Regions from separate parts of the Homo sapiens genome. Here region 1 is linked to region 2. Evidence: fine-mapped expression QTL. A gene starts in region 2. The other region holds a variant in brackets. All regions are shown on one strand. Distances are from middle to middle.

Region 1 (4,392 bases), 42 kb after region 2:
AGGAATTTGAGAGCAGCGTGGGCAACATGGCAAAACTCCATGTCTACAAAAAATACAAAATAATTAGCCATGCATTCACTTCTGAGGGAAAAGTCATGGACTTTGTGGTGCTGTGAACCCCATGTCACTCATACCAGAAAGAACATTGTGTGCTTTGGGGTCTTGGGAAAGCTGACTGACCACCTGAGGTGATGCATACTTATTTTTTTATTTATTTTTATTTTACTATTATTATTTTTTGAGACAGAATCTCACTCTGTTGCCCAGGATGGAATGCAGTGGTGCGACCTCGGCTCACTGCAACCTCCGCCTCCTGGGTTCAAGCGATTCTCCTGCCTCAGTCTCTCCAGTAGCTGGGATTACAGGTGCCTGCCACCATGCCGAGCTTAATATTTGTAGTTTTAGTAGAGACGGGGTTTCACCATGACTGCCAGGCTGGTCTTAAACTCCTGACCTCAAGTGATCCACCTGTCTCCACCTCCCAAAATGCTGGAATTATAGGCTTGAGCCACTGCGCCCAGCCAATGCATACATTTTTCCTCAGGAGATTAGCTTTTACCAGCAAAGGGCGTTCAGAATCAGTTAGCTGACCATTGTTTTCTGAAGTAATCACAGGCCAGTCCCTAGTGGGAGAAAGAAGTGGCCTCTGTAGCAGGACACCTGGAGCTCAGCCCCAGCTCTGCTGTGTGGCTGTGTGACCTTGGGTAAGTCCCTTAACTTTGCTGGGCTCAGCTTTCTTTGTAGGCAAAATCAGGGGCTTGAGCTTGTTCTCTCTACAGCTCTCCTACAGATTGAGTCTGTCTGCAATCACAAGGAGCAGGAGAGGAAGAGACTTAAAATGTGTTATTGTGGTCAGCAGCTATGGGCTGAATGTTTATGTCCCCTCCCAGCCATTCTACTCTTTAGCTTAGAGCTATTCTCCACATGGGACCCAGTGGGTCCATGAGGTCAAACTATTTTAATGATGATACTCAGAAGTTATTTATCTCTCTCCTTATTTTACGAGTAGAATTTTCCAAAGGTTATTTGGCATTTGACAGTCTAACAGATTGGATGGAGAACAAGACAGAGAATCCAGCTTCTGGCCAGAAGTGGTGGCTCACACCTGTAATCTCAGCACTTTGGGAGACCGAGGCAGGAGGATCACTTGAGCTTAGGAGCTCGAGACCACCCTGGCCAGCATGGCAAGATCCCATCTCTACCAAAAAATATAGAAATTAGCTCGCATGGTGATGTGCGCCTGTGGTCTCAGCTACTTGGGAGGCTGAGGTGGGACGATTCCAAGGATCACTGTTGTTGCTAATTTTTTTTCTTTTAAAAAATACAGATATTTTTAATAAAAGTATGTTAATTATGTTAACCTGTAATGGGCTTATTATTTCAAAATCAATTAACAATGTAAATATTTAAAACTTCTGTGTTAAAATTTCTAATAGTATAAATAGCAGTAGATTTAGCCCACTCTAAGGGAGATGGTTGTGCTTTAGTCAGGAGTAGGCCGAGGCAGCCTTCTGGTGCAGCATGACTCAGTGGGTTTGGAGGCAGGCACACAACTCCACACATTATGTAACCATGCCATGTGAGGTGCATTAGGTGACCACTCATATGAGCACGTGCTTGGCTCAAAGCCACTATTGTCTGTAAAAGGTAAAATTACCCTGCTGACACTACATATGGCTTGCACCCAGAGAGAGAATAAAGCCATGTCGAAACCGCCTACTCGAGTGTTTTTCCAGTTACCTGCCACCCACCCACCAACTCCCCTTGGACTTTAGTTTGGGCTAGAACCTGACAATTGGCATCACGAACAGGATCCTAAGGTAAGTGAGCCTTCGGTCCCTGCTGATTCCAGGTTGGCCATGTGACCACAACATGGGTTGTGGTACCCGGTGGTAGCCGTGCTGTGAGGGTGGGCCTGAGTGGAAACCTGGGTGGCAGTAGATGGGTCCCCCATGAGCATGGAGAAGGCGCTGAAGCAGCTGGAAGTGCAGAGCACCAAGAAGGAGAGAGCCTTTGCTGGCAGAGTTGGATGGGCATTTTTAACTGTGCTAAGAAAAGTACAC[A/G]CCCAGTCCCTGAGGGATGCAGACTGGAGGTCTGGCTACACCGATCTGGAAAATAATTAGAGGCTGCCATGAATGGGGACCTCCAGGTGCAGGCAGGATGCCTGGAGGTGTGGCTTCAGAGCTTGGAAAAGGAATTAGAGGCTACCATGAATGCAGGCCTGGGTCCATCATCTTGTCTGGAGATCCCCACTCAGTTTCATACCAAGGAGGAAGAACCCCTGTTGCGGGCTCACCCGGTGGTCTGACAGAAGGTAGATCATGAACAGCCACTGGGGCTCCAAGGGTGGACTCAGGGACTCCCCACCATAATGCAACACATTTCGTATATTGCCTGTACCCCAACTGAGTTGCAGGAATTAGGCAAGCAGTGTTGCCAGTGTCCAGGGGAACCCCTGCCTGCCTGGATGCTTCGTCTGTGGAACAAGGGAGCAGATGGTATCTCCCATTCCACCTCTGAGATGGACAAGCTGGCCTCCACCATGACTCACCCCTCTCTCTGTCAGCGGCTGCAAGTGAGCAGGTGGTTAGTGGCAGCGCAAGGAGACCACACCCTGACTGAGTGGCTACAGGCAGCCATATGAACTGTGTGGAATAATGCTGGTGAAATGCCCAAAACTGTGAGTAAATGGCAGTCATATGCCAATTTGGTGTAAGTCATTCGGGAGATGGGTATGCGGCAGGCTATGTTTGTCCTGAATACCTGAGGGCCAGATGATAAATGTTTCACCTCCCACATGAGGGATCTCATGTTGGGTTTGATGCTCCTGAGCCCCTTTGGCTCCCTAGCTGCTGTCCTCACCCCATACGTAGGGCACCGCATACATGAAGTAACCACTGCCATGGCGGCTCTCAGGGAAGCAGAAGGCCTTCAGGGGGATTGGAGGGTCCACACCATAAAGAAGGGGAAGTTACCCCACCCACAGGGGGCTCCCCCATAAAAAAAGGGGGCCCCAACGAGTGACACGCTCACAGATGTGGATAGATTTGATTTTGGCTGGGGTTGACTGAGAGAAAATTGATAAGCAGCCCAATGAAATACTCCTAACTTTGCGGAGACAGTTGTATGCAGGGCAGCAATTCCGGAAAATGCCCAAAGGGGAGAAAGGCATTGCTGTGTGACCTGGTCCTACCCAGCTCAGAGACTACTTGCTGCAGCCAGGTGGAAATGTAGAGCCTTTTCTGTTCAACTAGGGAACTGGCCAAAGGTGTCTGGCTTGGGGGGACACCAGATGACCAGAGGCCACATGTGGAATTGGCAATCCACTGGTCCCCCACCAATGTACAGTGGGTGCTGGTGCTGGTAGATACTGGCATAGATTGTAGCCTTGTTTATGGGAACCCAGTTAAGTTTTTGGGCAAATCTGCATATATTAAAGGTTACGGAGGCCAGTCAGTGAAAGTGAAACCTGTATCTCTGTACCTTGGCATTGGCCACTTGGCTCCTTGCTTATACACTGTGTATGTCTCTCCCATACCTGAATACATTCTGGAGGTGGATATTTTACATGGCTTGGAAGCTGTGCCATCTATCATGGATTTGATGAACCACTCGACAATGGAATTAGGACAGTACCACTATGTGGTGGACTTGGCCAATGCATTCTTCTCAGTTGACCTTGCTCTAGAGAGCCAGGAACAGTTTGCCTTGATGACAATGGACTTTCACAGTGTTGCTGCAGGGCTATGTGCATAGCTCCACCATATGTCATGGTCTTGTTGCCATGGATTTAACAGCCTGAAAATGTCCAAAGGGAGTCCACTTGTTCCATTACGTTGATGATATTATGTTAACCTCTGATTCTCTTGCAGATTTAGAAGCAGTGGCACCCCTCTTGTGGCAACATTTGGCAGCATGCAGTTGGGCCATCAACAAATCCAAGGTCCGAGGGCCTGGATTACCTGCTAAATTCTTGGGAGTTATCTGGTCGGGTAAGATGAAGGCCATACAAGAGGCTATCATTGACAAAATTTAGGCATATCCCTGGCCCACCACGGTGAGGCAGCTGCAAACTTTTGTGAGCCTCCTGGGATATTGGTGGACATTCCTGCCTCATTTAGCTCAAATGATAAAACCATTGTATCAGTTAACAAAGAAGGGAGCAATCTGGGATTGGGCTGATGTGGCTGAGACTGGCTTCCTGGCAGCCAAGTGGGCTATTCAGCAGGCACGAGCCCTGTGGGTATTTGACAAGGGGTGCCCATTTGAACTGGATATGCATGTGACCACAGATGGTTTTAGTTTGGGCCTGTGGCAGCACACAGAGTGCCTGAGAATGCCAGGAGGCTTTTGGTCCCAACTATGGAAAGGAGCTGAGCTCTGGTATTCCTT
Region 2 (4,392 bases):
TGAATGAATGAATGAATGAATGCTGTTAATAGATCAGTGAAACTTCATTGTTTTTTGGGGCAGACTCATCCCCTACATCAGCCTCCTCTGCAAATGGCCTTGAGGGGCTGCTCTGCCTGTGTCCAGATGCTCACATCCCTGCCCTGGGGCTGGGCTGTTCCAACAGGCACAGCAGGAAAACAGTCTGCCCTGTTGCCTACCCATGCTGCCTTCAGGGCACTCCTTAAGCTGAGCCTCTTGGTAGTGGCCCCAGGTTCTCTGTGTTCTTGCCAACACTGTAACATACTTAAGAGGGCCCAGGGCCCTCTGACCTCCCAGTCATCCTTTTTTAAAATTTGGACTCAGAAAAAGAGACACGGGTTATGATGTTTCTTAATTCTTTTATAATGATGAAAAGGCAAAGTCTTGTTGCCAATTTAGGTACAAAGATGCTTCAGCACTCCTGGGAATTAGTCAATTTTGTATTTCTTCAGTATTTTTGAAAGAACTTATTGCAATTATTGATGATGGCAACTTTAAATGGTGCAATATCATGTTTCCAAACAATGAGAGACCTTGGATCTGTCACCCCAAAACCCAGCTGGTGATTCTAGCACCAAATCTCAGACCCCAGTCTCATGGCAGGCAAGCATGATCCCTGATTAGCCTCCACCCTGTGCCTTGGCAGGATCATGCCCAGAAATGGAGGGGCTCCCCAGCCTCCTTAATGGCCTCTCCACCTTGGGCTGAGCCTGCTTCTCCATGGCTAGGTGCCCACTGCATGCTCACTCTTGGCAGAGCTGGCTCCCTGGGGCATTGCCTATCTGCTCCAGGAAATGCTTTTTAGTACCAAGTAGTCTAAGCAGAGTCAAGACCAGCTTTTCAGAATAAGCAGATTTCAGAGTCACATATTGGTCAGACTCACCTGCCAAGAAAGGTGTTCAGGTGACCTATTATTTCCCTCACTGTTAGTACCTTTTTTCTTCACTTAGTTACCCTTTTTTTTTTTGGTGGGGGTTACAGAGTCTTACTCTATTGCCCAGGCTGCAGTGCAGTGACATGATCATGGCTCACTGCCACCTTCATCTCCCAGGCTCAAATGGTCCTCCCACTTTAGCCTCCCAAGTAGCTGGGACCATAGGCATACACCACCATGCTGGGCTAATTTTTGTATTTTTTGTAGAGATGGGGGTTTCCCTATGTTGCCCAGGCTAGTCTTGAACTCCTGGGCTCAAGCGATCCTCCCATCTTGGCCTCCCAAAGTGCTGGGATTACAGGCATGAGCCACTGTGCCCTGCCTAGTTACTCTTGGGCTAAGTTCACATCCATACACACAGGATATTCTTTCTGAGGCCCCCAATGTGTCCCACAGGCACCATGCTGTATGTGACACTCCCCTAGAGATGGATGTTTAGTTTGCTTCCAACTGATTAATGGCATGCAGTGGTGCCTGGAAACATTTGTACCTGGGGTGCTGTGTGTCATGGGAATGTATTTACGAGATGTATTCTTAGAAGCAGTATTCTAGCTTTTGAATTTTAAAATCTGACATTTATGGCGATTGTTAAAATGAGGTTACCATTTCCTACTGAATACTATCAACACCAAAAAAGAAGAAGGAGGAGATGGAGAAAAAAAAGACAAAAAAAAAAAAAAGTGGTAGGGCATCTTAGCCATAGGGCATCTTTCTCATTGGCAAATAAGAACATGGAACCAGCCTTGGGTGGTGGCCATTCCCCTCTGAGGTCCCTGTCTGTTTTCTGGGAGCTGTATTGTGGGTCTCAGCAGGGCAGGGAGATACCCCATGGGCAGCTTGCCTGAGACTCTGGGCAGCCTCTCTTTTCTCTGTCAGCTGTCCCTAGGCTGCTGCTGGGGGTGGTCGGGTCATCTTTTCAACTCTCAGCTCACTGCTGAGCCAAGGTGAAAGCAAATCCACCTGCCCTAACTGGCTCCTAGGCACCTTCAAGGTCATCTGCTGAAGAAGATAGCAGTCTCACAGGTCAAGGCGATCTTCAAGTAAAGACCCTCTGCTCTGTGTCCTGCCCTCTAGAAGGCACTGAGACCAGAGCTGGGACAGGGCTCAGGGGGCTGCGACTCCTAGGGGCTTGCAGACTAGTGGGAGAGAAAGAACATCGCAGCAGCCAGGCAGAACCAGGACAGGTGAGGTGCAGGCTGGCTTTCCTCTCGCAGCGCGGTGTGGAGTCCTGTCCTGCCTCAGGGCTTTTCGGAGCCTGGATCCTCAAGGAACAAGTAGACCTGGCCGCGGGGAGTGGGGAGGGAAGGGGTGTCTATTGGGCAACAGGGCGGGGCAAAGCCCTGAATAAAGGGGCGCAGGGCAGGCGCAAGTGGCAGAGCCTTCGTTTGCCAAGTCGCCTCCAGACCGCAGACATGAAACTTGTCTTCCTCGTCCTGCTGTTCCTCGGGGCCCTCGGTGAGTGCAGGTGCCTGGGGGCGCGAGCCGCCTGATGGGCGTCTCCTGCGCCCTGTCTGCTAGGCGCTTTGGTCCCTGTGTCCGGTTGGCTGGGCGCGGGGTCTCTGCGCCCCGCGGTCCCAGCGCCTACAGCCGGGAGGCGGCCCGGACGCGGGGCCAGTCTCTTTCCCACATGGGGAGGAACAGGAGCTGGGCTCCTCAAGCCGGATCGGGGCACGCCTAGCTCTGCTCAGAGCTTCTCAAAAGGCCTCCCAGGCCCCTGTCCCTTTGTGTCCCGCCTAAGGATTTGGTCCCCATTGTATTGTGACATGCGTTTTACCTGGGAGGAAAGTGAGGCTCAGAGAGGGTGAGCGACTAGCTCAAGGACCCTAGTCCAGATCCTAGCTCCTGCGAGGACTGTGAGACCCCAGCAAGACCGAGCCTTTATGAGACTTAGTTTCTTCACTTAAAGAAACGGCCTAACCATGGGTCCACAGGGTTGTGAGGAGGAGATGGGGCATTCGCACACCTTCCGTGGCAGAGGGTTGTGGAGGGGTGCGGTGCTCCTGATGGAACCCTGTGTCAGAGGGTTTGAGAGGGAAATGTCAGCCAAACAGAAGGAAGGAGTAGAAGGAAGGAAACAATTGTCAGTTCCATAACCAAAGTAATTTCTCGGGTGCTCAGAGGGCACTCCCCAGCGCTGCACATTAGTGACCTAAATGCGTGAGTGCGGAGCTCCCTGCAGCACCGGGAGGGGAAGGTCCCAGGCCGCAGCAGAAAGGGCTGTGATGGGCATCAGGACCTAGGCAGTGGGAGGGGCACAGTGAAAGCCCAGGTGTCACACCTCCCCAGCCCAGTGCAGCCTCCACTTGTCTTACGGCATCTACCTAAGGCTGGGAGCTTCCTGGATGGAAGAGGTGGCGGTGGATAGAGAGCAGCAGTGGGAGCCCAAACCCATCCTTGTCCCTGCCCTTCTGGTCTCCTGCTCCAAATTCCTTCCCATGGGTGTTGGTCATCCTTCTCTTCTCTAAGACAGATTGGGACTGGCCAGGACCCGACTGTTCTCTTCCCCTCAAGCTCCCTGGCGAGTGGCCTGTTGCACAGGGTTAGGGCCACCTGGGAGGGGCAGGAGAGGAAGGAAGCCTTGCCTTCCTGGAAGTGGTCATGGGCTGTGGTCCAGGATTCTGGCTCAGAGTTGCACCACTGGGTTTTATATTCACTTGGATCTTTAGTTGTTTTGGCGCCTACTGAGGTCTGAAGTTTGAATCCTGCAGTCAATTGGGATGGTGGCTTGTACCCCAAAGTGCCATTGCAACCCTTGTCCTTCCTGAGGAAAGGGTGGCAGTTGCCCTGTGGAATTCCTGCCCTGCTCCCCGTGGGTGTCCAGGCTGACAGAAGTTGGGTGAGTGGGGCCAGCTGGATCTAAGCCGTGTGAGCATTGGGTGGAGGAGTCTGTCTGCTTAGCCCTGGAGCCATGGGCTGGGAGGCACTCATGAGGTTTCCCATCAGTCTGAGCAGTCTGCTTGGGCCCTATCATGAGCTGTGTGGGTAGGTGGGGAGAGTAACTCCTGTCCTGGCCCCTGCCTTGGAGGCCAGCGCACTGCATGTCTGCCCAGAATGTGTGTTTTGGCCAGTGTCCAGCCAGGTCCAGTGGGCAGCATCTGAGTGCCTGACACTGAATACAAGTGTGGGGTTGAAGATTTTGGAGGGGCCAGACCTAGACCTGCTTCAGGGGGTCACATAGCTCCAGAGCTGGGAGGTAAGAGCTTGTGGGTCACACAGCTCCAGAGCTGGGAGGTAAGAGCGTGGAGACTTCACCTGGTGTTTGGGGGGCTGGGGACTGGGAATCCTGGAAGGGAGCTCAGCGGTCCTTTAGTCACTCTGGTTCAGCTCCTCTTAGGGGAAGAAATGAACTCTGCCCACAGGTTCCCGTCATTGCTCAGCCCCCACCTCCGGCTTGAGGCATGGTCTTCCATTTTACTCTCTCCCTTCACCCCCAGAAC

The links. PIP is the estimated chance that this variant, and not a neighbour inherited with it, causes the effect.
Region 1: its variant is fine-mapped to the expression of LTF in whole blood (TOPMed, PIP above 0.99).

The regions. Positions count from the first base shown.
Region 1 is chr3:46,420,973-46,425,364 of GRCh38, reverse strand. It overlaps LINC02009 (long intergenic non-protein coding RNA 2009), which reads left to right and starts at 1,698. Exons shown (of 5, transcript NR_151704.1): 1 at 1,698-1,820; 2 at 2,567-2,680; 3 at 3,873-3,992. The variant A/G (reference allele first, on the strand shown) is at 2,064.
Region 2 is chr3:46,462,843-46,467,234 of GRCh38, reverse strand. LTF (lactotransferrin) reads left to right here and starts at 2,330. Exons shown (of 17, transcript NM_002343.6): 1 at 2,330-2,410. The coding sequence starts at 2,368.